Linked DNA regions of Homo sapiens: all the other regions are linked to region 1. The links come from fine-mapping of genetic effects on gene expression. A gene starts in region 1. Each other region holds a variant in brackets. All regions are shown on one strand. Distances are between the middles of the regions.

Region 1 (5,074 bases):
GCACAGACCCCGTCATAATAGAGTAGGTAAGCAATGCTTACCTGTCAAATGAATGAATGAAACACCCGATTCATCCCCCAAGCCAGCTTAATACATTAGATGATCTTATGGACTGAATAAGACATCCCTCCTTTTAAAGAATATTTTTGTTTTAGCTTCACATCAGCAAACCCCGAACGGTTCATCCTAAGATAAGCCTGGTAGAGAGGAAAGATACTAACCTTCTAGGGTCCTAAAGTGGAACTAGGAACTTATTAGATATGCACATTCTCAGGCATTATTTCCGATAGCCCAGTCAGAGAATTCTGGGGGTATGGCCCAGCAATCTGTTTTAACAAACCTTTCAGGTAATTCTGATACACACTAAAGTTTGAAAGGTTTCTTTAAGGCTTTCCAGTTTTCTTTTCTTTTTTGGAGGGATGGGGGGGGGTCTCCCCATGTTGCCCAGGCTGGTCTCGAACTCCTAGCCTCAAGCTATCCTATCCTCCCACCTCGGCCTTCCAAAGCATTGAAATTACAGGCATGACCCACTGCGGCTCGCCTCCGTTTCTAACTTAAAAAAATTTTCTTTGGAGGGGAGCCTTAATCCTTTCTATTATCCTGCTAGTAGAATCTTACTACTCCTGAGGGTAATCTTTGTCATAATCCAAAAGCCTTGAATAAAGGCCTATTTGTATAGTTATGCAGAATATATTCCTGGGAGGTTTGCCTTCCTAGGAGCACAGGTCGGCCCTGGGAGGTGGGGGTTGGGGGGCAGGGCTGCATTCTAAAGTCCTGTAACAACGCACAAGTACAACTGAATAGAACTCGGAACAAAGGCATCAGGGCCACGGTGCAAGTCTTTGTTCATCCGTTCCCCGACTGCTCACCCTGTCTGATACCGCTCTTTTCCACCCAGAAAAGCAGCCACTCAAGTTTTAAGAATGGATGTATGCCGCGGACGTTTTCGATTAGGCCGTTTTCTCTCAGGCACTGGAGGATATTCGTGGCTGCAGGAGGCGCTTCCACCCTTTCCTCAACCTAGCAAAGAAGTAACTGAAACTAACCCAAGGGTTACAACCGAAAAGCCCCTTCCAGCTTCAGAAGCAGAACTGGAAGCTCGGATAGACTTCTCCGCCTCTACACTCCTGGAAAACCCGCAGTGGATTTCACCAACTTCAGGATCGGAGCCCAGGCAGGCGAACGTACCTTATTGCGCATGCTCGCTAGCCCCTCCCGCTCGGAGCGGAAGGGGGAGCGCTGGGGGCCTGGGCCTGGCCTGGCCGGGGCGTCGGCACCGGCGGCCATCTTGGCTTCCCGGGGAAAGGCGGCGTGAGGGGAAGAAGTTGTAGGGTGGGGGCAGGAGTGAGGAGGAGGGAAGAGAGAGGGGGAGGAGGCCGCGGCGGGGCAGGGCGGGGACTGCCTGCCTGCCTGGGTTGCGGAAGTGATAGCCGCCGACCGAGCCTGCTGCTTTCTTGCTACTGCTTCGGCTTCCCGGCTACCCCCCGGACGGTGAAGGCGGCCCAGCTGTGGATGGTCAGATAGCCCTTGTCTCCCGCCGCCAATCTCTGGCCCCTAGCAGCACGGAGCAGACGGCGGCAGCAGCAGCAGCAGGCGAGGAGGAAGATGGCGGGACGGCTGCCGGCCTGTGTGGTGGACTGTGGCACGGGGTAAGGGGGCTTACGGGCGGGGGTGGGGAAACTGAGGCGGAGGAAGGAAGATGGCGGGGGAGGGAGGAGGCCGGGAAATGAATGGTGCGGCGAGGTGCCGCCGCCGGCTGTCAGTCCTAGACCCGCCGGCCAGCGAGGGGTGGGGCCCGCAGCCAGGGCCTCGCGGGTCCCCTCGTTTCTCCCTCCTGGGACTGGGGCGGGGGCGCGGGCCCGAGATTCAACCCCCAACCCTCCCAGCGGCTTTCTCCGCGCGACCCCTCCCGGCCCTTCCCCCACTACGGTGGGCAGCGCCGCCCAAAGGGCGCTGGGGACGGTCGTCTTGGGGGTGGTCCCCGGGCCCGACCCATCCGGCTTTCCTTTCCCTCCGCGCCCGTTTTTGCCAGTCGGTTTGGGGACCCAGGGGCCGAGCTCGGGGACTGGCCTGGCAGGGGAGCTAGAAAAGAGAAGCGCTCCTGGTAGGTTTGACAAGATCGCTGTGACAACATTCTGCCCAGGGTGTGGGTGGGGAAAGGGAAGAATCGGACTCTGAAAATGGGAACCTACAGTGGGGCTTTCATTTGACCACCCACCTTCTCCTTTCGACTCCTGGTCATTTCCATCTCCCTCTGCGTTTTAACCGGTGAACCAAGTCACATTTTAATTCGAGGGAGAAAGATGTCATGTGTTACTTCTGTAGCCTCAAAAAAGTCCCCCAGTGAGCAAGCGCGCTGCAACTTCCTTAGTTTTGTCAAAGCCGCTTCCTGCTTTCAGTCTTTTATACCCTTATAAGGTAGTTTTTAGTTTCCAACCTGAGCACATCTTACTAGAACTTTTAAGCAGGTTTTAAAGAGACTGAATTACCGGTGCTTGGTGTCCATTTATATGACTTAAAAAAATGTACTTATGTTTCATGGAGTGGGGGAAAGGAAGCACCCTGGAAAATAAACTAATTTAAGTTGTATTCGTTCATTCTGTGATGGTATCTTGAAGGAAGCAGGAAGGTATAGAGGTATATAGGAGGGTGTTTAAGTTGCAAATAGTTACTCGTAGATATGTAGGGTAGTTTGCGAAAATGTAGAGTGGCTTTAAAGTGTGGTCGTTCATTTTGTATTAATAGACGTTTTAGAGAGTTGTACCACACTCATAACTGCATAGAGAATAGACTACCCTTATTTTTATGTAGAATCACTGCTTCAGGATGACATATAGGAAAGTGGTTTTTTTTTCTGTGCTGATGACATCTCTCCAATTCCCAGAACACTCCCAGTTTTTTTTTTTTGAGGGGGAAGTCAGTAAGAGGTGGACTGTCAGGCTTTTTTTTTTATTATTAATTATAATTATTGATTTCATTATTGTTACTTAAAAGATTGTGTGTCCTTCACTCTTTATGTGAAATTTCTTTAATCTTCATTCTCATAACTAGCTAGTGTGGCAGTTTCTAAAATCCCAGTTAGGTAGAGAGAAACCACCAACTTCTTAATATTCTCCTAGGAAAACACTAGCCTTGGAACTTCTATGTATTTTTTTGATGAACACTTTATTTAAAAGTTTTTCCTTAATTCAGTCTCATTTCTCTGAACCAATAATTTTTTTTATTTCTCCCTTCTTAGTCTAATTGGTGAGTATTTTTATGTCTAGGTTCAGTTTTAAAATTAGATTTGGCCTGAGTCAGTAGGATAGGACTTTTCAAATGTGTTTTGTTAAAGTGACGAATATTGCTACATAATTAATGCTTTAGAAATTACTGCGTTTTCAAAAAAATAGTGTAAATAATTGTGGCCCTGAGAAATAATATGGTAACATCTCAAGTAGTATGTTACTTTTCTAATCTCCATTTTCCCCCTTTTGAAATAGTTTCGAATTAGTATACAAGATGTTTCATTGAGATAAACTGTCCTTAAGTGACCTCCTTTCCTAAAGGGCAACCTTGAATTTAAAACATGCTGAATGACCAGTAGGATCGGGAAGAGGGGTTCAATTTAACCTAGGCTATTTCTGTTTTAAAATTACGATTATCACAATAGTGTATTTTTAAGTTATTACATTGGTTTCTCCAATAAGGAGAGGTTATTAACTGCACATTGATGATTTGAATGGAACTGATTAGGAGTCCCCTTGCCACCTCACTCTCTTTTACCATTTGTCACAATCTGAAATTCCCCCTTTAGAGTTTCAGTTATTTTGGTTCTCAAAAGCCTTTTTGGTCTTACAAGTTTCCAGTGGTGCCTCCTGGGAAGTTACACCTTCAGCTTTATTTGCACATGGAGGATAAGTCCTTGAGGTTGAGGACCCTGAGATAAACATCTCTAAGTATGGCCTTAACAGGGAGCTTTTACATTTCAAAATTCTGTGGTCCCCGAATGCAAATTGTGCACCTGTAATTTGTCTAATTTTTTTTATGCTTTAGAGAATGCATTCAGCTCTGAGGTCTCTAAATTACAATTACTCACTTAGTTTAAGTAAAAAGTTATAACCTGAATCAGGTTGCTCATTTCATTCATTATATAAATTAGGGGAAAGGTGGCTGAAAAAAAGTGGCCATCTGTAAAACTTGATCGTCTTAGATAGGAAAGCTGTTAAGAGTTAGGAAACTTGAAACTTAAGCCCAAAACTTTTAGGGATCGTCCAGCAAAACTCAACATATGAATCACCTAGATTCAGGTCATAAAAGAGAATACTTATTTTGAAAAGAATTTGAAAAGAAATGCTTCATTCACATTGATACCCTTATCTACACACTTTTTTGGTCTGTATTGGAAAGCATTGTAAAATACAGTTGGGGCACATAGATTCCCATTGGTGGCTTGAAAACTAAATAACAGAACTCAAACCTGCTATTAGTGGTGAGAAAAGCATTTTCTTTAAAAGGCATTCACAAACATTTTTTAAAAAAACATTGTAACACTTGTATGATCATCCTAAGGTTTTTTTTTTTCTGGGCGGTGGAAGGGATCGTTTTTTAAATGTGTTTTTTGCTTTTTGTTTTTTTGTTTGTTTGTTTGTTTGTTTTGAGATGGAGTCTTGCCCTGTCGCTGGGCTGGAGTGCAGTGGCACGATCTCGGCTCACTGCAACCTCCACCTCCCAGGTTCAAGCTATTCTCCTGCCTCAGCCTCCCGAGTAGCTGGGACTACAGGCACATGCCACCACACCCAGTTAATTTTTCTCTTTTTAGTAGAGATGGGGTTTCACCATGTTGACCAGGATGGTCTCCATCTCCTGACCTCGTGATCCACCCGCCTCAACCTCCCAAAGTGCTGGGATTACAGGTGTGAGCCACCGCGCCCAGCCTTAAAGGTTTTTTTTAAATGCATGTTTTTACTCAAGTTTCTCCATCATTCAAGCCAAATGAGGGCGCTCCTTATTAACTCCTTGTTATATCGTAGCTTGGTTACAGAGCTGCATTGTGAATTTCCTTTTCCCTTTTATGTCTTTTTTTTTCCCCTGG
Region 2 (5,074 bases), 32 kb after region 1:
GGGCTCAAGTGACCCTCCCATGTTGGCCTCTCTCAAAGTGTGGGATTACAGGCATGAGCCACTGTGCCAGGCTTTTAAAAAAATTTTACTTGACATATAATAATTGTACATATTTATGGAGTATGTAGTGATATTTTGATATGTACAGTGTGTGGTGATCAAGTCAATGTAAGTAGCATATTCACCTCAAACACTTATTTTTTTGTGTTGAGAATATTCAGAATTCTCTGTTCTAACTATCTGAAAATATATAATAAATTAACTGTAGTCATCATATAGTGCTATAGAACACTAGAACTTATTCTTGCTATCCAGCTGTAATTTTGTATCCTTTATTCAAGCTCTCCCTATTCCCTTCTTTCCCCTACCCTTTCCAGCCTCTAGTAACCACTTTTCTACTCTCTACTTACATGAAGTCAATTTTTTTAGCTTTTGCACATGAATGAGAACATGCAATTTTTTATCTTTTAGTCCCTGGCTTATTTCACTTAATGTCCTTTGGGCTCATCTGTGTTGCCAGGAATGACAGGATTTCACTCTTTTTTTATGGTTGAATAGTATTGTGCATATATACTACACATATCCGTATGGACACTTAGGTTAATTTCATATTTTGGCTATTGTGAAGAGTACTGCAATAAACATGAGGGTGCAGGTATCTTTGATATAGTAATTTATTTTCCTTTGGGTATATACCCAATAGTAGGATGGCTGGATCATATGGTAGTTCTATTTGTGGTTTTTTGAGGAGCCTCTGTACTATGCTTTATAGTGGCTTTACCTATTAACATTCCCTCCACAGTATATATGAGTTCCCTTTTCTGCACATCCTTGCCAGCATTTGTGATTTTTTTTGTCTTTTGGGTAATAGCCATTCTAACTATGGTGAGACGGTATTTCTTTCTGGTTTTGATTTGCATTTTCCTGATGATTAGTCATGTTGGACGTTTTTTTCATGTATTTGTTGGCCGTTGATGTGACTTCTTTTGAGAAATGTCTATTTAGATTATTTGCCCTTTTAAAAAAATCAGTGTTTTTTTTTTTTTTTCTTGCTGTTGAATTGAATTCCTTATATATTCTGGATGTTAATCCTCTGTCAGATGTACAGTTTGCGGGCATTTTGACCCATTCCATAACTTGTATTTTCCCTCTGTTGATGGTTTTCCTCACAGAAGCATTTTAATTTAATATAATCCCATTTGTCTATTTTTGCTTTTGTTGCCTGTGCTTCTGAGGTCTTATTTGTAAAATCTTTTCCCGTACCAATGTTGTGAGAGGTTTCCCCTAAGTTTTCTTCTAGTACTTTTATAGTTTTGGGTCTTAGATTTAAATCTTTAATTCATTTTGAGTTGATTTTTGTATAAGGTGAGAGCTAGAGGTCTTGTTTCATAAGGAGAAACACTTTTGACTGGGTAGTGTAGAGAGGAGAAAATAAGTTTAATTTTGAACACATTGTGTTTGAGGTACTTGTGAGACGTCTGAGATTTTGTTAGAGTCAAATATGTGGATTTTGGAGGTAAGAAACAAGGCAGAGCTGGAGACAGAGATTCAGAAAGTGTCAGTTACCTTAGACGGGTTGACATTACCTAGGGGAACATATCACAGGGGAAGAGAACTAAGACAGAGCAGTGTGCCAGTTAGGTTTGAGTAGAGGAGGAAAAGTCTGCGAAAGAGACTGAGAATGCATGGGTAGATATGTAGAGGTAAACACTGTAGAATGGTGCTGAGATGAGCTAGAGCCCATAGATAATTTGCTGTCTTTCGCTACAAGGTGGTGATTTGTAACCTGAATGAGAATAGTTTTAGAAGAGTAGTTGGGCTAGATGAAAGTAGGCTTTTGAGTGATAGGCCAGGAAAAAAGTAACAGTAAGAGTACTGTTCATTGAGTTTCAATTGTGATTGGGAGGGAGAGAGAGATGAAGAGACACATTTCAACGTTAAGATGGAAGACATGTCTGAATGCTAATATGAAAGAACTATTAGAGATTAAAGTAACAGGAAAGATAAGGTATAATCAAGGTCTCTGAAAAAGCTGGAGGGATGAGATCCAGAACACAGATGACTGAATTGACATGCGGAATATCTTACATTATAATGGAAGTAAATGAGAAAAAAGGCTAAGTATGGAATCCATTTTACAGATTTGAATTCCTGACTGTTGGCTTCTGCTGCTTCTGCGAAATATGTGGTGGCATCATCTGCTGGTCATGGATGTGGGGAGAAGGTGAAATCTTAGCGGTAGGGGCGGCATTGACACTCGTCATTGTGAAGAGTAAAGAGGAACAGAGTAGAAGAGTAAAGGCTTGCCAGGCAAGGTTAGGTCCATTTGAGAATAATGACTATGAATTCTTAGTCTTTAGCACCCTAGTGCAAATGCTTCTGCGGTATAATCAGCATTCTGGATATAGGCAAGTTTATGTTAGGGATATATGCTGGGTTGGATTTTGGTAGACAGGATGAAAAAAGAACATGTGAAATAAAGGTGATGGGTCAAAATCTAGACTGTGTATATTGATGGCTAGGGAATAATTAAAGCAACCAGTGGACCAAAAGTCTTAATTGGTGTTCAGAAGAGATCTCTTGAGGTGGTTGAGTATGCTAGAATAATAAGAGGTTGTGATCAGAGAAGGGTATACCTGCATTTCAGCGATTGAGAGGTGATAGTGATGATGATATAAGATCTATACTGTGGCCAAAATGGAAAAGAGATACCACTGAAAGTGATGAAGTCAGTCAGTCGAGAGGCCAGAGTTCCTTTCCACTGATTCTGTCCACTCATTTTAAACGCATTTTTAAGTCTTCTAAGTGCTACTAACAAACCAGAACAAAACTTCTCTCAATCTTTATTCCTACCTTCTGTCCTCAGCAATTTAGCTATTTTTCTCTTTCCTTTTAAAACGACACTTCTTAGTGAGTCTCAAGATATTTGATATGCTCTTTGTTAAATCCAATTATATGTAACAGTTTTCATCCTTCTTGATTTGTCTTTCTTTTGCAGGATTACTCTAATGGTTATCTTCCTAACATGGAATATTTGTTTGTTTGTTTGTTTGTTTGTTTGTTT[G/T]TTTTTGAGACGGAGCCTGGCTCTGTCGCCCAGGCTAGAGTGCAGTGGCGCGATCTCAGCTCACTGCAGCCTCGACTTCGGGTTCATGCCATTCTCCTGCCTCAGCCTCCCAAGTAGTTGGGACTACAGGCGCCCACCACCGTGCCCGGCTAATTTTTTATATTTTTAGTAGAGATGGGGTTTCACCGTGTTAGCCAGGATGGTCTCAATCTCCTGACCTCGTGATCTGCCTGCCTCGGCCTCCCAAAGTGCTGGGATTACAGGCATGAGCCACTGTGCCCGGCCTGTTTTGTTTGTTTTTATTTGTTGTTTCTATTGTCACTGATTTCTCCTTTACCCACTACTCAAACGTTGGTTTCTCTAGGCACTGCTTTCAGTTCTCCTTTTTTTTTTTTTTCTCTTCTCATAAAATGGGGTGACTCAATGTTTTATTCTTTCATTAAAGACTTTCTCTAGGTGATCTCCTCCATTCCTTTGTCTGCAACCACAGACCAGATCTCTACTTTCAGTTCCTTGACTACATCTTCACCTACCTATTTCCTGGCTCTTGAGTTTTAGTATATCTAAAACAAAACGTATTATATATACTCCACTCTTGTTTATTCCAAGATCAGACAAAACACAATTTTTATGTTTTGATTAATGGATCTGGTCCATCCTAACTTCAAAGCTGGAAACCTGTTGGCATCTTCTGACTTTTTTCTCTTTTTTTTTTTTTTTTTGAGACAGGTGTCTTGCCCTGTTGCCCATGTTGGAATGCAGTGGTGAGATCTTGGCTCACTGCAAGACCCTCCACAATCACTTTGACCCTCTGGGCTCAAGTGATTCTTCCACCTCAGCCTCCTGAGTAGCGGGGACTACAGGTGTGTGCCACCACACCTGGCTAATTAAAAATTTTTTTTTTTTTTGTAGAGACAGGGTCTCACTACGTTGCCTAGGCTGGTCTCAAACTCCTGGGCTCAAGCCATCCTCTCACCTTGGCCTCCCAAAGTGCTGGGATTATAGGTATGAGCCACCATGCCCAGCCCTTTCTTATTCTTATTGACTGAGAAATCTTCAATGTGGCCCCTTGTCGTCCATACCACTATTGGTACTCTTGTTCTCACTTGGTTCTGTTAAGCTTCATTTGAGCTTTCCCAATGCTGCTATAATAGTCTTCCTAAAAATTAAAGCTGTTCTTATTCCCCTGCTTAAAAATTTCTCTGCTGTTTTATTTCTTATAGAATAAAACCTAAATAAAAGGAAAATTTTTGAGAATCTAGTCCCTTTGATCTAGAACTGGTATATCTCTCTACGCACCTTCAAATCTTTTGGCACATAAATTTCTCATTGATAACTTCAGTTTTGTTTTTGTATACCATGCAGTGTTTGTCTTTCTATACATCTTTTTCTGTTCTCCACAAGTTCCTCCATACCTCTCATTCCCCTGCCAAAAAAAAAGCCAGAAAGCAGAACTGAGTTAAGACCCGGCTTAGATATGACCTCCTCAGCGAAACCTTTTCTCTCACAAAACAAGGTGGTCATCTTATTCAAGGAACTATTTATTTATTTATTTATTTATTTATTTGACAGAGTGTTACTCTGTTGCCCAGGCTGGAGTGGAGTGATGTGATCTTGGCCTACTGCAACCTCTGACTCCTGGGTTCAAGAGATTCTCCTGCCTCAGCCTCCCCAGTAGCTGGGATTATAGGTGCCTGCCACCATGCCTGACTGATTTTTGTATTTTCAGTGGAGATGGGGCTTCACCATATTGGCCAGGCTGGTCTTGAACTCCTGACCTCAAATGATCCACCCACCTCAACCTCCCAAAGTGCTGGGATTACAGGCGTGAGCCATCGTGCCACCTTTTTTTTTTTTTTTTTTGGAGACAGAGTCTTACTCTATCGCCCAGGCTGGAGTGCAATGGAGTGATCTTGGCTCACTGCAACCTCCGCCTCCTGGGTTCAAGTGATTCTCTTGTCTCAGCCTCCCGAGTAGCTGGGATTATAGGCATGCACCACCACGCCTGGC
Region 3 (5,074 bases), 21 kb after region 1:
CCATACAATTGGATACTGTATGCATTTATTCTTGTGTTTTGAGAAGAGCATTTTTGTTTTGATTACATATTGACTGTTTTGTATTAGGTTCATTTGATCCTTTTGGTGTTTATTTTGAAAGTAATTCATTGATGAATATACTCAGCCTAGGAAATTTGATTTTGGCCAAGAATGGGGTCTTGATCAGTCTGGTAAGCTGGTTAAATGAATGTTTCTTAAGGGAATTTCTACTGTAATGTGGTCTGTACTTCAAATATTACTGTAATATTTAGGAGACGATATTTACACACATAAAAATATGTGTGGCTTATGGTTGAAATGAAGATTAGTCAAAAGAAAGGATGCCTGATAGTTAAAATGATCAGGAAAGACTTCCTGGAGAAGTTTTAAGTTGTGATAAAAGTTTTTTTGTTGTTGTTGTTGTTTTTTTTTTTTTGGGAGGGTGCAGTGTGAGCGTAGATAATATGTGAGGGGGGAATAGGGAATAGACAAGATATAAGGGAAAAAAGAGTAGCAGGTGTAGTATGCTTAGAGCTGGGTTTATGTAAGCAAGTGATAGCAGATGCTTATAAAAATTGGAAATGATTATGGAGAACTTTAATATTCAGCTGAAGGAATCAGAGAATGATATAATTGTTCATGTGGATGGGCCTTTAGGAACAATTTTACAATGAACAATTTTACAGAAATGGAAACAAGCTTGTACTTAATCTTGTAGCCAGTAGAGCATCATTTGAAGATTTTTGAGTTAGGCCGTTTGAAATTGGGAAATATGTATTTGGTCTTCAACTCCATATTCGGACATACAACTCCTATAATTCTTAGAAACTCCAAAGTGACGTCTGTTTGAGTGCTAATGGGATGACTGTTGGCTGGCAGCCCCTAGGTAACTTCAAGATGGGGCTGGTCACTTGAAAGACCAAGGCATGATTAGTGAGTTGGGACTTCCAGCCCCACCCTCCAACCACTGGGGCTGAAGGTTAAGTTGATCACCAGTGGCCAATGGTTTAATCAATCCTGTCTATGCACTGAAGCCTCTATAAAAACCCAAAGGACAGAGTTTGGAGAGCTTTCAGATAGCTGAACACGTGGAGGTTCTGGGAGGGTGGTACGCTCGAGAGGGTGTGGAACGTCTACGTCTCTTCCTACACACCTCACCCTGTGTGTGTCTTTATCTGTATGCTTTGCAGTATTATTTATAATAAACCAGCTAATGTGTTTCTCTGAGTTTTGTGAGCCACTTTAGCAAATTAATTGAACTCAAGGAGGGAGTATGGGAAACTCATCTTCAAGCAGGTGAGTCAGAAGTTCCAGAGTCTGGGGCTTGTGACTGGTGTCTGAAGAAGGGGGGCAGTCTTGGGGACTGAGCCTTCAACCTGTGGATTCTGATGTTATCTCCAGGTAGATAGTATTGGAATTGAATTACAGAACACCCAGCTAGTGTCCACTGCAGAATTGATTGCTTTTTTGTTGTTGGGAGAAACCCTCCACACATTTGGTCCCAGAAGTCTTCTGTGTTGATTGCTGTGGTGGTGGTGTGTAAGCAGAGGAAAAAACAATTAGAGCATTGTTTTTAGGTATATTATTCTCTTGTCCTTTGTAGGAGTTCTAGAATTGGAAATACTGTTTTGTCCTGTTTTAGGGTATTGTTGGGTATAGCAGCTTGAATTGTGGTGGTGACAAATAAGAATAAAAGTAGAGAGATTAATATGTGGGATCAGACCAAGGAATAGTTAGGTATTAATAATTCACTATTGGTTAGATAGTAGTAGGCTTTTAGGTAGAGTGTTTTGGTTCAACAGTTTCAGACTGCTTTGTATTAAACAAGTTTTTATTTTGGTATAGTAGACTAGTCATTTCCATTTGTCCACTGGTAAGGTATTAAACTATACTGGATGGGAAGGAGAGCATCTAATGTAGTAGGAGCAGTGTTAATAGTGGCTTGGTGGCATGAAATGAGTTGGAGTGTTGAGAAATTGTCAGCTGTTTTTATGGTTAGGGAGTTTAATGTGGTGTCAGGGCAGCTGGGAGAGGTCAGAGGCCAAATAATAAAGGGACTTTTTTGTATACATTACAAGGAAATTTTTTGTTTTTCGTTTTTTTTTTTTAAAACGTGAACAGTGGGGAACTGTTGAAGAGGTTAGTCAGTAGACCAATATCACTTTTTTCAACAGTTTATGGTTTCCCCTTATTTTTAATGATTTACTCTTATTTGGCACA[C/CT]TTTTTTTTTTTTTTTTTTGAGACGAAGTCTTGCTTTATCACCCAGGCTGGAATACAGTGGCATGATATTGCCTCACTGCAACCTCTGTCTCACAGGTTCAGGCAATTCTCCTGCCTCACTCTCCTGAGTAGCTGGGATTACAGGCGCCCACCACCACACCCTGCTAATTTTTGTATTTTAATAGAGATGGGGTTTCACCATGTTGGTCAGGCTGGTCTCGAATTCCTCACCTCAAGTGATCCTCTCTCCTCGGCCTTGGCACACTCAGTTCTTGAACTTAATTTGGAGGCTAAAACATTCCCCAAAGATATTGTTTATTTATTTGTTTATTTTTTGAGACAGAGTCTCACTCTGTCTCCCAGGCTGGAGTGCAGTGGTGTGATCTCGGCTCACTGCAACCTCCGCCTCCTAAGTTCAAGCGATTCTCTTGCCTCAGCCTCCCAAGTAGCTGGTATTACAGGTGCCCACCACCATGCCTGGCTAATTTTGTATTTTTAGTAGAGTTGGGGGTTTCACCATGTTGGTTAGGCTGGTCTCGAACTCCTGTCCTGGTCCCGTAATCCACCTGCCTCAGCCTCCCAAAGTGCTGGGATTATAGGCATGAGCCACTGCTCCCAGCCTAATTTCTATAGTTTTAGTAGCGAGGGTGTTTCACCGTGTTGGTCAGGCTGGTCTTGAACTCCTGACCTCAGGTGATCCACCCACCTCAGCTTCCCAAAGTGCTAGTGTTACAGGTGTGAGCCACCACGTCAGGCCCCCAGCAGATTTTTTTTTTTCATTTTATCTTAGAAAAAAGATTCTTCAGATATTAGAGTCCAAGAATGTCACAGCAATTACCTGTCTGCTATTTATCAGTGAGTTTGAATATGGAATAATATAAAATGTTACATTCTCTTTAAAGCCTGCTTATAGTTAATAGCTTTTCCCACATAGCTAAAAAATGCCCCACTATCTCCTAAGTAGCCCCCACATACTGCTTGTCAGAGCTCAGCTTTTATAATTTCTAATCCTTATTTATGTTGTTATTTTGTTAGAAGAATGTAGGCCAAGTCTACTGTGACAAAACATTAAATCTTATATTTATTTTTGAATAGTAATTAATTTGAATGGTATGAAACAATGTACAATGAAAACAAATCTCCTTCTCATTTCTGTTCATCATGCCCCAGTTCCCTTTTTTGGAGACAACCAAAATTATTCTTGTGTAGTCTTCCAGAGATACGTTGTGCCTATACAAAATATTTCATATGTTTTTACTCCTCCCCATTAGTTTTATACAGATATACCATACTTGATACATTGTTCTGTATCTTTGTTCAATAAGTAATATATTTTGGGAATTGTTTCCTATCACTATACTAAGAGCTTCCTCATTCTATTTTTTGTAGCTGCATAATATTCCATAGTATAAACTTAGCATATTTCAATAGTTTCCAGTTTGATTGATATTTAGGTTATTTCCAGTCTTTTGCTGTTAGAAGCAAGATTGTAGCTAATGACCTTGATTGTGTATTATTTCACATATATTCCTGAAGGATCAATTTCTTGAAGTGGAATTTCTTTTCAGAAGCTCTGTGCATTTATAATTTTGATAGAATTGTGAAAGTAGGGGTTAAATGAAGTGAAACTATGGAATTTGGTATATTATTTACCTACGATGGAATCTCACTTCATAACAAATGAAATTCTAAGAAAGAAATGTATAATTGCTAAAATATTAGTGAAATCTTTATAAATTATTTTGTTTTGCAGGTATACAAAACTAGGATATGCTGGAAATACAGAACCACAGTTTATCATCCCTTCCTGTAAGTATTTCTTTTAAGCCACAAATGAGCTGATTTAAAAGATCCCCTTCCCTAATAATTTAAGTAAAAGAAGTAATCAGTTCTGAAATCCTAAAAGATTTAGTCCTTTTAAAAACATGATTTGCCAGGTTCTAAGTGTGGCCTCATTTTTGTATGTCTGACTATTCATTTCAGCTTTATGTTTAGCTCCCCATTTGCCATGTCTACTAAATACCTCTTTTTAAAGAAAAAAAGAAATTAGCTGATAATGAAACAGTACCCCAATTTTTAGGGTGATATTGCAGTTAACAGTATGGGGGTATAACTAATTATCAAGTAGTCCATTCCCCATCATATACCTATGAAGACTGTCCTTTGGTTTGTGGATATGACTACTGTTTGTAGGGCCCGTATCTGTTGACGTCCTCACTAAGTGCCCATGTTTCAAAATATGGATGGAAGGACAATATCTCACTATCTCACCTTTAGAGATGTTGACCTCAGCTGTTTTCTAATATCCCATAACCATACTGTTGTATGTCTTTAGAGTATTTTTGTTTTATCCTATTTTTGTTAATCTTGCTTAAGCTGACCATTAACTTTCAGTAGTTTTTAAAAAATATTCTGACATTGGTTTGTTAGTGCTCGTTTGTTAGCATAGGTCTGTTCCTTGATTAACGTACTTTTACACTTTTGACTTGCAAACAGTTCACGTTTTTTGTACATAATATAGTAACACTTCTGATCTATTTGTCTTACAGCCAAATTAAAACTTTTGCATACCAAGTGACAAACCTTTTGAGCCGTTGCTTAGTGGTTCTCCTAGACATTTTAATTTTGAGAGTGTCACTGATTTTTCACAATCTTATTTATGTGACTGAATTTTTTGTATTTCATTGTTATTCATTATGAAAATAAGAAAATGGAAAAATGAATATGTAGAGAGTAATGAAAGCAGTGTATGTTTCAGAATCAATGAAGTTGAGAATAAGATGTTAGGCTTTGCCAAAAACTGGATCTTTAGTATCACTTGAGCACTCATTGGACACAAGAGGTCAACTGTTTT
Region 4 (5,074 bases), 44 kb before region 1:
ATGGTTCTACACTGGGAGAACACCAGTGCAGTTGAGTGTGAGAGAATTGTACTAAAAATAGTGGATTAAGTGAATTCATGCATATTAGCTTCTGGGATACCCAATACATATCCATCTTTTCCTTCTCTGGGCCAAGAACACTGAAAGTTAGACCTTCACCCTCCAGGCAGGACATGGAGTCTTCTCTGGGAAATATGCTTGGTCCATGATGAAAGACCTGACCTTGGAAAGATATTGACATTGGAAGTTCCCTCAGTAGACCCAACCCACCGTGATGCTCTTACAGTGAAACCCACATCAGACCAGCCCAGCTCTCATATTCTCAGGGCTTCCAGCCAGTGTTTCAGTATCTCACTCTTAAATATTATCAGATACAAAGATGATAAGATATGTGAGGAAAGCCTTTAACTTGGAAGATAGAAAATGAATAAAGAAAAAAAGTAATGTCAAGGAAATGAAGATAAAATAAAAGTCAAACCTCTCACAAAGAGAAGCTACTATAACCACAAGACAAGAAAAGAATTCTACGCAAAAATAAACAAGCAAATAAATAAATGGAACAAAACACATACAGAAGATCTTGAAAATTAAATACATAGCTGAAAGGAATATTTTATTTTCTTTCTTTGTTTCTTTTTTTGAGACAGGATCCTTCTTAGTCACCCAGGCTGGAGTGCAATGGCATGATCATAGCCCACTGCAGCCTGGACCTTCTGGGTTTAAGCAATCCTCCCACCTAAGCTCCCTGAGTAGCTGGGACTACAAGTGCATGCCACTATGCCTGCCTAATTTCTTTTACGTTTTGTAGAAATGAGTCTTACTATGTTGCCTTAGTTGGTGTCAAACTCCTGGGCTCAAGTGATCCTACAGCCACCGCCTCCCAAAGTGCTGGGATAATAGATGTGAGCCAATCCACCCAACTAGAAATTAATATTTTCAATAGAAAGGTCAGAATGTAAAGTTGAGAATTTTTCCAGCAAAAAGAAAAGGGAATGGAAAACAGGAGATACAAATGTCAGACAATTAGGAAATTGGTCAAGGGTGTTAGCATCTGTGTCCATACCCAAATCTCATCTTGTAGCTCCCATAATTCCCATGTGTTGTGGGAGGGACCCGGTGGGAGATGGCTGAATCATGGGGGTGGGTCTTTCTTGTGCTGTTCTTGTGACAGCGGATGGGTCTCATGAGATCTCATGGTTTTAAAAAACGAGAGTTTATCTGCACAAGCTCTTTTTTTTGCCTGCTGCCATCCATGTAAGATGTGACTTGCTCCTCCTTACTTTCTGCCATGATTGTGAGGCCTCCTTAGCCATGTGGACTGTATGTCCAATTAAACCTCTTTCTTTTGTAAATTGCCCAGTCTCGAGTATGTCTTTATCAGCAGCAGGAAAATGGACTAATAGAGCATCCAAAAGAAAAAAATGAAGAGAAGTTAATAATCTGAATTTCCAGACAGAAAAATGTATTAAGTGAATACAGTCTTAGGCTAATGCACACATTGTGAAATTTCAAACATTGAAGACAAAGAGAAGATCCTGCAAGATTGTAGAAAGGGGAAAAATATACAGGTCATATACACAGGATCAGAGATTTATGAGAATAAAAATGTTCCCCAAAACTTAGGGAAAGGCAGTTGTTCTGTAGTCATAATAAGAAGTAGCTATCAAAAACTGGTTTTAAACCCATGTAATCAATCAACACAATTCCCCTCAATGTACACACTTTTACAAACCAACACATCAGAATCAGGTCTTTGTTTCTGAAAAACAGCCAGTCATAGATGGATTCACTCCTGTAAAAACACCTTTGAGTGGTGAACGATCAATAAAGTTTCCCCTCCCCTAAGGAACTGTGATTCTGCAAATGATGACATCCTACTGAAGTCTCTGAACTCCCTGAACTCATGCTTCCTCAAAACCGTAGTAGTCTGCTCCACATGGAAAGACAGTTTCTGACCATCATAGCTCTCACTAGAGCAAGGAGTAAATTCAGCTTTGTCCTTTTATTTCAGATATTAAGTGGTGGTCTCATCATCTTTTGGCATAGACTTTTAACTTGTGAACAGGAGGACTGGCTACAAAGCAATGGAGAAAGGTTTTCAAAATGTTAAGAGAAAATAATTAACGATCTAAAATTCTACTTCCAACCAAACTAGCACTTAAACACAAGAATCGAAAAAAAATTAAAAAAAAAAAGACATTTTCAGACATGCAAGATTTCATACAATTAATTTACTGCTCATGTACTCTTCCTTGGGAAGTCACTGAAGGAAATCAAGCAAGAGGAAAATGTGGATTACTAGAAACATGAGATCCAATACAGGAAAAAAAGCAGAGGACAGCCCCAGGATGATGGTAAAGAGAGATCCCAGCATGGTATCTGATTCATGCTGCAGCTTGTATAAATTACCTTGTGCTGCATAACAAACCAACTCAAATCCCAGTGGCTTAAAACAACCATCTATTTAGTTCACAATTTTGCTAGGCGGTTCTTCTGGCTGATCTTAGCTAGGCTCACTCATGCATCCATGGTCAGTTGGCAGTTTAGCTGGGGCTGACTGGTTCCAGATGACCTCACTCAAATGCCTGACACGTGTCTTGGTGTTGGCTGCAGTGATGAGATGACTGGACTATGTTTCCCTCCTCATCAAGAAG[G/T]TGAGCCTAGTTCATCACATGACAGCGGGGGTCCAAGAGCCCAAACCACAAGGACTCTTCAAGCCTCTACTGTGTCATATTTCGTTGGTCAAAGCAAGTCACATGGTCAAGGTCAGAGCCAAAGTGGAAAGTATACTCAGAGTTACAGAGCAAAGGAACACAGACACAAGAAAGGGAATCATTGCTATTGTTGCTGTTGCTGGCCTCATTTTTTTTTTTTTAAGTAAGGATAAGGTTTTGTTTTGTTGCCCAAGCTGGTCTCAAACTCCTGGGCTCAAGTGATTCACCCACCACGATCTCCCAACATGTTGGGATTACAGATGTGCACCACCGTATTTCATGTTTATTATTTTTTTCATTATTTCATATTTAGTTTTTTATTAGTTGTCTCCCCTAACAGAATGTAAAGTCCCATGTGGGCAGCCATATTTGCCCCCAGGTGCTGAAAACCGTTTCTTTAGAATAAATTAATGAAAACAAAAAATACATGCAGAAAGGAAAAAAAAAACACAAATCTTTATAGTGGCTGCTTTGAGAGAGGAATTGAGAATTTGAGTGTCAGGAGTGGAAGAGCAGGAGAAATGGACTGACTTTTACTTCTTTAGGTCCCCCTGTCTTCCAATCCCTACAGGCTTCCGGGTCCAAGTGGTGGCCTCCACGGCGCTGCACACCCACAGAGATTCATGAGAGTGTCGAAGGGAAATGTGAGAACATCTATTTATCTGCTATTTATTTTCATGTCAGATGGGCAAAATGTTGACATCATGACAAGGTTTGAGGATGGCACATCCCACACTTGAATGTGAACACCTAATCATCATGCTTATGAACTACAAAAGCATCAACATATTTATGTTTGCTTTCTTCCTAAGAGAAAAAAGGCATTATTTGTATTTAATTTACAGATTTTTAGTACTTGCTTATAATTTATAAATTATATTCTAGATTGCATGCTCAGTGATTTTGCTGACAAGAGTATGGAATCAAAGACATTTGGTCTGAAGAAGTTTAGTTACAGACTAATAGCCCATAGGTCTTGTAAATGGTGAACGTGTTTGACTTGTCTTGTACTGTTTTAAAATGATTTGAATAAAATCCAGAGATTTCACATAAAATTCCAGATTTCTGGCTGTTTTTTTTTTTTGTTTTTTTGTTTGTTTGTTTTTGAGATGGAGTCTCTCTCTGTCCCCCAGGCTGGAGTGCAGTGGCATGATCTCGGCTCACTGCAAGCTCTGTCTCCCGGGTTCACGCCATTCTCCTGCCTCAGCCTCCCGAGTAGCTGGGACTACAGGTGCCCACCACCACGCCTGGCTAACTTTTTGTATTTTTAGGAAAGATGGGGTTTGACCGTGTTAGCCAGGATGTTCTCGATCTCCTGACCTTGTGATCCGCCTGCCTCTGCCTCCCAGAGTGCTGGGATTACAGGCGTGAGCCACTTCTGGCTTTTTGAGACACTAGAGGAGCTGGCATTACTGGACCTGTGATGTGCTGGAGCTGGTGAGCATGTGAACGTTTAGAGGTGTGTGGGTGTGTGTGTGTTTGTGTGTGTACGTGTACTCTTGTGCACCAAGGTCTTCCTAATGGCTTCCTGTGGGTTCTCCTATTCAGTTCACTTCACTCATTTATCAGCCTGGCCTTGCAGACATTTTAGTTTCTGGCCCTTTTCTGACAGTTTCTCAACATCAGCCAAATCATTGTGCCTGCTAGCAGGGAAAGTGATGAGATTTGCTAATAATGTAATTTTTTTTTCAAAAAAAAATGACTGATTTCAGAGCTACTGCTACCCTAACACTACACTTACTCACTTTCAATCCTGGTGAGTAAGAATAATAGGGCATGTGTTGACACACCAGAAACCAGGCTTAAAAGGGGAGTGTGTCCTTGTGAATCACCATTACTCAGGTGCGTTCTGGCTGAAAGCAGGCTGACAACCACTGATCTGCAGTCCACAGTTTTGTACCTTGATATTCTAATTATGTGTAGTCCTCCTTTGTTACATATGTAACTACAGCTTCACAGGAACTTCTTGCAGGTACTGCTTTATCACATATATCACCATGGTTTGCATAGTGAAATATAGAGAGATGGTAAAGGAATACACACACAGATGTATGTACATAGAGTAAAAGCAGGAAGAGAATGTCTCATTTTTGTTTTGTGGTCTGTCTTTAATATCATTTTCTCATTCAATCCTCATAATAGTCATATATGGGTAGTATTTTTCTTTTTATCTTAATTTTAGAGATGAGAAAATGATGCTTAGAAAAGTGAAATAAGGGCCGGGCATGGTGGCTCACGCCTGTAATCCCAGCACTTTGGGAGGCTGAGGTGGGTGGATCACGAGGTCAGGAGTTTGAGACCAGCCTGGCCAATATAGTGAAACCCCGTTTCTACTGAAAAATACAAAAATTAGCCGGGCG
Region 5 (5,074 bases), 52 kb before region 1:
TTATTTTTTTTAGACGGAGTCTCGCTCTGTTGCCCAGGCTGGAGCGCAGTGGCGCAATCTTGGCTCATTGCAACCTCCGCCTCCTGGGTTCAAACAATTCTCCTGCCTCAGCCTCCCAAGTAGCTGGGACTACAGGCACGGCTAATTTTTTGTATTTTTAGTAGAGACAGGGTTTCACCATATTAGCCAGGATGATCTCGATCTCTTGACCTTGTGATCTGCCCGCCTCGGCCTCCCAAAGTGCTGGGATTACAGGTGTGAGCCACCGCACACGGCCCCCTCTTTATTCTTAATAATGCTTTTTTGTCTTAAATTGTATTTTTGCAAATATTAGCATTTTTATACCAGGTTTCTCTTGTTTGGAATAGGTGTTGACAGGTTTACATTTTTTCATATCTTCATTTTCAAAGACACCCAGCTAGCGTGTGGCAAAGCCAGTTTTATTCCTGCATCCCCTAACCCCCAGTCTATTATTCTTTTTTTCGTGTCTCAATGTCTCAGGTCCACCTTCTTTCATGATTCAACATAAGTCACTCTTCACTTTGAGGCTCCCCCAGCAACTCAGTCTATCATGATTGCTTCCTCTTCTGAGTGCTCAATGTCCACAGTACCCATTTGGTCCTTAAAATCTTAAAAGTATGCTACCTTGGTTTTGTGTTGATCTCTATCCTGGAAGTTCCTTGAAAGCTACAATATGAATTATATCTCTTCTGCAGACTGCTCCAAAATTACTTTACTAAGGGGGGCTAGTGGTACAATCTGATTGGGAAGGGAGTGCGTAGGGGACTTGTCTGGAAGCTGCATTTGCATAGCAGACACTTCATTTTATTTGCAGTGATTGAGGGTGAGTGTTACAGAGTTTAGGAAGAGGTAAGCTAATGCCCCCGTATACCACTCTTTCAGCTGTCACTGACCTCTACCGGCTTGCCTATGATAGTGGTTTCCAACAAATTTAGCTGCTCTTCAAAATCACCAAGGGAGTAAGATTTTTTTAAGTACTTATTTTCAGATCTCCCTCCAGAGCCACTGAGTCAGAATCTCTTGAGTGGAGCTTGGGAACCTAGTGTTTAAGGAGCTCTGTTGAAATTCAAGACATCTAAGCACCTGGTCCGTAGGCAATAACTGCTTGTAAATACAGGATGGGTACCAAGTCGGGAAGCAGAAAAGCTTTAATTGACATTCTATAATAATATATAAGAAAGTGATATCTGTTTCCAAACTCCCATTGCTACAAATGGTTTAGTGTAAAATAAGCTCTATTCAATCCCATTTAGTAAGCATTTCTATATGAAAGAGGCATATAATAATAACAAAAGTAATATCTGACGTCCGCTGAACACCTAATACACACCAGCACTTTGTCGAATGTTGTATGTACACTGTCTCATTTATTATTCACCAGGCTTCTCTGTGTGCTCTATAATCAGGGTCAACTTATCCATTAGGCTCACTAGGCACTATGTCAAGGGTCCATGACACTATTAGGGGCTCATGAAAATGTTTTTGTTTATTTTAGCATCAGAAAGGAAAAAAAAAGAACAGAATCCCTGTTGAATTATATTAGCCTTTTTACCAACACAGTCACAAAATATAGTTGGTAATCATTTTCATGGAGAAAGGGGCCTATGAAGGCAAAAGTTCCTTGGGCCTCTGAAAGTCATAATGCAAGCTTCACCATAATCATTCCCATTTAACAGCTGAGGAAGCTGAAGATCAATGAAGATGAAAATTTAAACTTGCCCAAAAGCCACATCTCTAGGAAACGGCAGAAGTGACCTTTGGACACAGGTCTGTGGGACTCTACTGATGACCCTTTCAACCACCACACTGTATACTGCACAGCATTATTTAGCAAAGAAGCTCATACTAAGTTGAGAAAACAGGTTTGTTGTACATTAACCAGTTAGAAAATCCTTCAAGAAAAGAATATAAATTAATGTCTAAATTCAGGGACAGACCCAGATTGCGTGGGGCCTGAGGCTTTTACAATTTAAATGATCTTCTTAAGACAATACAAAATTATAAATAAAAATTAGCCACACAGTCTTGGAGGGGACTGTCCAAGTTAAGGGGCCCTCAAGTGTAAGCCTCCTTAGCAACATGGCCCATCCGCCCTTGCCTAAATGTCTTTGGGTCTAAAGAAAGCCAGGGTAGGAATCAGTGTAAACCAGGGCATATCAGCAAAGGACTCAAGGAGGAAATGGGACTTTGCAGTATGGCTGTGAGTTGGGCACCCTGAGTGCAAACCCTGGGGGCCAAGTGTGAGCATAACATGTTTAGAGGAAAGCAGAGAACTCACCCAACTGAACCTACTGTGTCCGGGGTAGGGAGAGGATCCAGGGTTCCCTGAGGAAAGTGAGGCCTGTTTTGTTTAATTCATTAATTTATTTATTTTTAAGACAGGGTCTCACTCTTTCACCCGGCTGGGTGCAGTGGTGCAATCATGGCTCACTGCAGCCTTGACCTCCCAGGCTCAAACAATCCTCCCACCTCAGCCTGCTAAGTAGTTGGGAACTACAAATGGCTAGTTTTGTTTTTTGTTTTCAATTTATTTTTTTGTAGAGATGTGGGGGGAGGAGTTCTCCCTGTGTTGCCCAGGCTGGCCTTGAACTCCTGGACTCAAGCAGTCCCCCAGCCTTGGCCTCCCAAAGTGCTGGAATTACAGGTGTGAGCACTGTGCCTGTTTTAAATACCAGGATGGAGGCCAGTGGGAATCCTTATACTTATTCCTGGGTCTTATGTCATTACCTAATAGTAGGGCAGGACCCTTGGGAGGGTCAGGAAGAGGCAAAGAGGTCTAATTGGGGGGATTAATCTGAGTGTGTTTTAATAAGCACCTGAAATTATGGTTGGCTGGGAGGAGGGAAGAGAAAAAAAATGAGTAAGCGTCAAAAAGGCTCAATCAAGTAGATAATGAGGA[CT/C]ACAGGGGAAGAAGAGTCAGCGATCATTTATGCATTTCGAGCATGGATCACTGAAGGAACGGTGTGAGATTGCCAGAAATGTAGAGACCGGTTACGTTTGGTTCTAGAGAAGTTAAATCCAACAAAATAATCACAACAGAGAGGCATCCTGAACTAACTTGACCAGACCCGCTGGCCTTAGCCTTTGCTGTTGTTTTCCAGTTACCAATGCCCCATCTGATTGACACTTGTTTTTCTCAGTTGTGTTAACAGCATTAAGACATTACAGTCAAGGTCGGCCTCCTCTTCTTTCTGGCTAGGAAGCTGTGGTGTTATTTTATACACACACACACACACACACACACACACACACACACACACACACACACATTTCCGTCCACAGTTCCTGGACCATATCTCCCAGAGCCCTCGTTACAACCTTTCGTTATAAGGTTGGGTGTGTTAGGCCTCAGGAGCAGATTCAGAAAACAGAATCTCTCTGACCTTTTCCTGCCCTTCTTTCACCTTCTGGAAGGCAGGACTCTAGTCTTACCCCACCTTTCTGACTACGGGTCTTAAGATCCTCTCCAGAGATGCTCCTGCCCTATAAGCCGGGGGAAGAAATGCTGATATCATGAATCTTCCACAAAAACCCAAGAGGACTGGATTCAGGCAGCTTCCAGATAGCTGAACACACGGAGGTTCCTGGATGGTGACCGCCAAGGGAGGGGATGGGAGTTCCGCGCCTCTTCCCCCATACCTCACCCTGTGCATCTCTCCGTCTGTATCCTTTGTAATGCCCTTTATAACAAACCAGTAAACTTTTTTCCTGAGTTCTGTGAGCTGCTCTAGCAAATTAACTGAACGCAAAGAGAAGGTGTAGGAACCCCAGCTTGAAGCTGGTTGGTCGGAAGTCCCAGAGGCCCACATCTGCAATGGGTGTCTGTGGAATGGGCAGTTTTGGGGACTAAGCCCCAAGCCGATAGAATCTGATGCTATCTCCAGGTAGACAGTGTCGGAACTGAATTGGAGGACATCCAGCTGGTGTCTGCTGCTATGTGAGTCGGGAAATTCCCCGCATATTTAGGCAAAGAAGTCTTCTTCTTTGTTGTTGATTGCTGCTGAGGTGGTGTGAGGGCCAAGAGAAAACTGGGTTTGAGAGTATTTTTCGAAACAGAAGCACTTTGCCTTTAACATGGCTTTTGTTAAACACCATCATTAGAAGATTAGTTATAATTCAACTCCCAGAGTTACAACCCTCTCCTCTGCCTTTCCAGGTGAGCGGCCAGAGGACTAGTCACAACGAAAATAGAAAGAGGAGAAGGGATTCAAGAGGGCATTACAGAGGTATAAAAATCAGAGGCCCAGAGCAGTGGCTTATGCCTGTAATCTCAGCACTTTGGGAGGCCGTGGTGGGCAGATCACCTGAGGTCAGGAGTTCGAGACCAGCCTGGCTAACATGGTGAAACCCTGTCTCTACTAAAAATACCAAAAATTAGCCGGGTGTAGTGGCGGGTGCCTGTAATCCCAGCTCCTCAGGAGGCTGAGACAGGAGAATCGCTTGAACCTGGGAGGCAGAGGTTGCAGTAAGCCGGGATCGTGCCATTGCACTCCAGCCTGGGTGACAAGAGCGAAACTCCACCTCAAAAAATATATATATATATAAATAAATAAAAAATCAAGGAATTATACAGAAATGGCGAAAGAAAGGAAAAAAGTTAGATTGGTGAACAAAGTGCAAAGAAGTCAGCAAAATGAGGAGGAGGCTCAAAACTAGAACTTGCTTTTTGGGATATAAATTTCTCTGTAAGGAATCCTCTCCTCGCGCCCCCCACAGGAAGTGGGGAACATCTTTCCTTTACCCCCTGTGACTCCCCAGGTTGCAGTCAGTGCTTCCCATTGCAGAGCCTACCAGGTTACCAGAGACCAAGGGAGCTGGGAAATGCTAGTTCCTTTTTATAGAGGAAGAGTAAAGAAGAGTTAACACACAGAGGGGTTAACTATCCTTTTGCTCCTGATTTGTAACTTTATTATATTGTGATCAGGGAATATGGTCTATATAATAATGACTGTGTTGTTTGTTGACTCACTTTGAGACATAAGACATAGTCAATTTTTGTAAACTTTTTTTTTTTCAGATGGAGTCTTGCTTTGTCACCCAGGCTGGAATGCAG
Region 6 (5,074 bases), 21 kb before region 1:
CAATAAAGCTGTATAATCTAAATCAAACATGACTTGCATGCCTGGAGACTTTGCACTAGAAAAATATTTCTACCTAAAAAATCAAATTTTATTTTCTTTCTCACAAATATTCAATCTGCTTTCATCTCAGTTCTTCCTACCTTGTCAAACCTCTCCCCACATTTCCTATTCTTTTTCTCTCCAGCCTGATATCTCTCATTATACTGCTTAAGAGAAATGTTATGTTACTATTCTTTTCTCCCAGAACTGTTTCTCTGGTTCTTTAAGGTGTCTGAGTACACACTGTGCCTTCTTCCTTTTAGCCCTCTCTTCTCCTTGTTCCCTGAGCCTTACCTTTATGACCTTAGAACTTCAAGTTCCCACTACAATTTTAAATATAGACTATTTTGCTTTTCCTCCTACTAGGGAGCTTAAATTGCCTCTAATTACACTGTTTTCCCGAGTCCTTCCTCTCCTTTGCAATTTAGATATAGCACAGAAGCACATTTTGCTTGACTGTCCTCTGAACTGTCATGCTGTTTTGATGTGGTTCTATTGTCCAAGAGTCTTGGTTAAATAATAGCCCAGCATCCCACCTGTGTTTAAAAGAACTGCTTCACAGGCAAATCAAAAAGCCCATGGATCCGAAGTCACAATGGGCGTTGCTATTCAAACAGCACCAGATTGCTATTCAACGCTTGGTTGAAAAATAAATTTCAGTTTCATTCACCTAATATATTTCCTTCTATTTTGTAGGATGGTATGCTCTTACTTCAATTTGGACTTGTTCACAATTGAACGTTAACATAGCCTTATAGATTAGCCTGTTTTCATTGGTCCAGAGTATTCTCCAAATAAAGCAGGGTCTGTGCATTTTAAGCAACTCCCCTGAACAATTTCATGGGCATTCTCAAATTTGAGAACTACCTGAAAAGCTGTGTTGGAGAAAAGAACAACCAATGAATGTGGCAGGACAGAATATTGAACATTAACTTCCCTTTTCCTCTTCTCCCATCTGTTCTCTTCCATTATCCCTACCCGTCCGCTCAGTCTCGTTATTCAGGCAACAGTTATTTTGCCATTATTTCCTCAAGAAAGGAACAAAAGTAAACACAATTGCTTTCTGATTTTTTTTTTTTTTTTGCATTTTAAAATGGACTTTGAAACCATAAGCAAAGAGGTGTTTAAGAGTCTTTCCAAAGCCAAAAATGAAGGTTTTGAAATTTCAAAGTCACTGCCTTGAAGAGACTCGAGGTTTGGAGTGTGTACAGTATGTCGGAGCTGGACTTTTCTCCTTCCTGAGACTAGATAACGGTCTGAATCCAAGACAGTTTTCATGATTTCAGAGGAAGTGGTCAAGTGGTCTGTGAGGTAGACCTTCTGCTTAAGAGCAGTCAGGAGGCCGGGTGCCGTGGCTCACGCCTGTAATCCCAGCACTTTGGGAGACCGAGGTGGGCGGATCACCTGAGGTCAGGAGTTCAAGACAAGCCTGACCAACATGCAGAAACCCTGTCTCTACTAAAAATACAAAAAATTGGCCGGGCACGGTGGCACATGCACTCCAGCCTGGGCAACAATAGTGAAACTCCATCTCAAAAAAAAAACAAAAAAAAGAGAAGAAAAGAAAAGAAAAGGAGCAGTCAGGATGTGTGCCTCCAAAGCTGAGGTAGACAAAAAGATACCAGAGTTCTAGAGGCCTGCCAGGCACAGCAGCAGCAGCAGAAGGAAGGTGTGGGCGAGAACAGGGCAGCCAGGCGTGTGCCACCTCCCAGACACAATTATTGGGAATGGAGGGCAAGTGGTGATGGGAGAAAATCTTGACTTAATTGATGTCAAGATTAAAGAAATGCCACCTGGTGGCATTTAAGTTCACACATAGGTAAAGAAAGTTATGCATTTACTGTGAAAGTCATCCCACTATTTAGTAGAAACAGGAGATCTGGATTCTGGTCAAGAGTCTCTTTTGCCAACTGTGGCACCACTGAGCAGCGGCACAGCTTTTGTGAATCCTGGGTTCTTCATTATTAAAATGGGGACATTAGCGTTGGGTTGAGTATAAGAAATGGACATTTTTGCAGGTCAAAAATGGTTGAATATTTGCATTTTCATATGATTCAACCGAATACTTACTTCACAGGCATAAGGAAAAAAATAGAATAACATACTAACAACTGTCCCTGGAGTAAGTACTTAACAAATACATGATTTATAAAGAAGATATGTGAAAGATATTTGTAAGTACATGATTTATAGAAAGATATGAAAGTATGTAAACCCTTGTGGTCTAATGGTCACAGAATAATCTGAGCTTAATATCCCTGCTCCCTACCATACAGAAGGCAAAATGCCTATTAGGGGTTTTCTTTCTTCACCCTCTCCTTCTTTTTCCTCCTCCTCTTGACTCCTCCTCATCCTCCTCTTTCTTCTTCCCCTTATTAATGTCTAAAAAGGGGCTGAGCATGGTGGCTCATGCCTGTAATCCTAGCACTCTGGGAAGCTGCGGCAGGTGGATCACCTGAGGCCAGGAGTTTGAAACCAGCCTGGTCAACATGGCAAAACCCCATCCCTACTAAAAATACAAAAATTACCCAGGTGTGGTGGCAGGCACCTGTAATTCCAACTACCCGGGAGGCTGAGGCAGGAGAATCGCTTAAACCCGGGAGGCAGAGGTTGCAGTGAGCCAAGATTGTGCCACTGTTGTCCATCCTGGGTGACAGAGGGAGACTCTGTCTCAAGATAAATAATAATAATAATAATAATTTCTAAAAAGGTAATACATTTTCATAGTTCAAAAACCAAAAGGTATAAAAGGAAATACAGTAAAAAATTTCCTATCATATCACTGTCTAGAGTACTATTCCTTATATATTTTCCTGATTTTTGAGTATTTTAAAATGTGAGTGTTGGATATGAGTGTTGGATTTAAAAAGTTTTATGATAATTTGTGTATAT[TTG/T]TGTGTGTGTGTGTGTGTGTGTGTGTGTATAGTAGTCCAAGACTATCAGTTTATGAATAATAAGAGGAGACCCATGGAAAACCAGTCCCTTTGACCAAGTTCACTCAGATAATCAGCAGCAGGGCTTGGACATTAATTACAGTTATCCAACATCCTTTGAGGTCTCACATGACAAATTACAAATATGGAGTGTAAATGTAACCCACTTTGCTAGGCAAAAAAAGCCCTGTTTTTTTAAAAAATATATATTTTTGGCTTATGGGCAACAGAAGCCAGGGAGACGTACAGTCAAACCTCATTTCTCATGGCTTTCATATCTGCAAATTCTCCTACTCATTAAAAGTTATTTATAACTCCCGAATCAATACCCACAGCACTTTTGTGATCATTGGCAGACATGTGCAGAAAAGAAAAAAAAATTGAGTTGTTGATTGCACACATTCCCAGCTGAATTTCAACAAAGCAACACTCTGCCTTCCCACTTCAGCTTTCTTACTATATGTGTGTCCTTTTTCTGTTTATTTAGTACCATGTTTTTCACACTTTCGTTCTTTTTGGTGGTGATTTTGCTGTTTAAAATGGCCAACAAGTGTAGTGCTAAGTGCTGCGTAGGGTTCTTAAGCACAAGAAGGCTATGATGTGCCTTATGGAGAAAATACGTGTGTTGGATCAGTTTCACTCAAGCATGAGTTATGGCGCTATTAGCTGTGAGTTCAATGTTAACAAATCAACAATATATGCTAAAGTGTCTTTAAACAGAAACACACATAAAACAAGGTTATATGTTTGGTTGGCAAAAATGTTATAACCAGAAGCTTGCAGAAACCTAACCCTGTATTTCCCTTAAGAGCAATGGTTCATTATTCACTAATTCAATGTTTACAGCAACTTTATAAACTATAACTACCATGAATAATGAGAATTGACTATGTTTTAGATCATAATACCTGAAGTGAAGTTTTCCATCATGGTTTTTAGTTCTTAGAGTCCATTTAAGTTTTTTAAAAATATGATAGCTATCCTATCACATCCCACATTCTTGAGATTAAAAAATTAATCTTTTATTTGGTACAGAAAAGGCTCCTGCGTGCATTTTTGGAGGGGCTGGACCGCTGAGGAAGTCATGGTTGGCTCAAGTGGTTTAAATGCATTGCTAATTTCATAGCCTCTGAACCACTTATGAAACAATACTGATGATATGTCAGTAGCTATGTTTGCAGCTCCTTCAGGAATGCTTATATCTTTTACTGCTGGTAAAGAAGAAATTTATAGTAATAGATTTTTTTTTTTTTTAGATAGAGTCTCACTCTGTCGCCTAGGCTGGATTACAGCGGCTTGATCACGGTTTACTGCAGCCTGGATCTCCCAGGCTCTCCTACTGTAGCCTCCCCAGTAACTAGGGCCCCCACACAGGCATCACCACACCCAGCTCATTTTTTTATGTTTTATAGAGACAGGGTCTTACTATGTTTTCCAGGCTGGTCTCAAACTTCTGGGCTCAAGCAATCCTCCTACTTTGGCCTCCCAAAGTGCTGAAATTACAGGCATGAACCACTGCACCTGGTTTATGGTCATCTTAAGTAGAGACTTATGAGTGCGTATCATTGTATCACCAATCTGAGACTCAATTTTATCTTTCTGTTAATAGACAATGCAGTTTTTCTGTTAATTACAATGAAAATCAAGGGTTGCTTAGCAAGTTTTTACTCATAACTCCAAGTTTTGTGACTTATAGTGAGAAATGGGTATAATTCTTTGTGATTTGTTAAAATGCAGTATTTCGAGGAGGGATAACATATAAAATTTAACAGTTTCCTATCATTATTTTTATCCTTTTGAACCACTGTATACTACAGATAGACAAAGGCAGCTTTGGCCACTTACTCCTCAGTGTGACTAAGTTGACCAGATGTTTTCCAGACCACAGGTTCTGTCAAGAGACAGTGTGGAGAGAAATGGGTAGGCAGGTATGGAAAGAAGAGTCAGAAACAGATAGTGAGCTAATCTCTACAAATGGCTCGTTATGGCCTGAGCTGTGTTCTCCTCCCCGCAAAAAGATATGTTGGAGTCGTAATCCCCAGTACCTCAGAATGTGGCCTTATTTGGAGATTCGATATTTACAGAGGTAAGCAAGTTAAAAT

The links. PIP is the estimated chance that this variant, and not a neighbour inherited with it, causes the effect.
Region 2: its variant is fine-mapped to the expression of ACTR3-AS1 in lymphoblastoid cells (GEUVADIS, PIP 0.95).
Region 3: its variant is fine-mapped to the expression of ACTR3-AS1 in Th1 cells (Schmiedel 2018, PIP 0.95).
Region 4: its variant is fine-mapped to the expression of ACTR3-AS1 in blood mononuclear cells (TOPMed, PIP 0.92).
Region 5: its variant is fine-mapped to the expression of ACTR3-AS1 in T cells (TOPMed, PIP above 0.99). The same link has a PIP of 0.9 or more in lung.
Region 6: its variant is fine-mapped to the expression of ACTR3-AS1 in follicular helper T cells (Schmiedel 2018, PIP 0.95).

What each region holds. Positions count from the first base shown.
Region 1 is chr2:113,888,675-113,893,748 of GRCh38, forward strand. It overlaps ACTR3-AS1 (ACTR3 antisense RNA 1), which reads right to left and starts at 2,318. Exons shown (of 5, transcript NR_110174.1): 1 at 2,219-2,318. ACTR3 (actin related protein 3) reads left to right here and starts at 1,415. Exons shown (of 12, transcript NM_005721.5): 1 at 1,415-1,649. The coding sequence starts at 1,606. It overlaps LOC124906071 (a long non-coding RNA gene), which reads right to left and starts at 1,093. Exons shown (of 3, transcript XR_007087205.1): 1 at 1-1,093. RefSeq lists enhancers at 786-1,095, 1,216-1,305, 1,338-1,993, 2,076-2,125, 2,176-2,355 and silencers at 1,386-1,445, 1,686-1,945.
Region 2 is chr2:113,920,286-113,925,359 of GRCh38, forward strand. The region is part of intron 3 of ACTR3 (actin related protein 3); the gene reads left to right. Among named protein-coding and RNA genes, the nearest start is that of ACTR3-AS1, 32 kb to the left of the region's middle. The variant G/T (reference allele first, on the strand shown) is at 3,065.
Region 3 is chr2:113,909,199-113,914,272 of GRCh38, forward strand. ACTR3 (actin related protein 3) reads left to right here. Exons shown (of 12, transcript NM_005721.5): 2 at 3,974-4,029. Among named protein-coding and RNA genes, the nearest start is that of ACTR3-AS1, 21 kb to the left of the region's middle. The variant C/CT (reference allele first, on the strand shown) is at 2,221.
Region 4 is chr2:113,844,741-113,849,814 of GRCh38, forward strand. The region is part of intron 2 of ACTR3-AS1 (ACTR3 antisense RNA 1); the gene reads right to left. It overlaps LOC124906165 (small nucleolar RNA U13), which reads right to left and starts at 3,496; the gene lies at 3,393-3,496. The variant G/T (reference allele first, on the strand shown) is at 2,655.
Region 5 is chr2:113,836,690-113,841,763 of GRCh38, forward strand. The region is part of intron 3 of ACTR3-AS1 (ACTR3 antisense RNA 1); the gene reads right to left. Among named protein-coding and RNA genes, the nearest start is that of ACTR3, 51 kb to the right of the region's middle. The variant CT/C (reference allele first, on the strand shown) is at 2,921.
Region 6 is chr2:113,867,210-113,872,283 of GRCh38, forward strand. The region is part of intron 1 of ACTR3-AS1 (ACTR3 antisense RNA 1); the gene reads right to left. Among named protein-coding and RNA genes, the nearest start is that of ACTR3, 20 kb to the right of the region's middle. The variant TTG/T (reference allele first, on the strand shown) is at 2,932.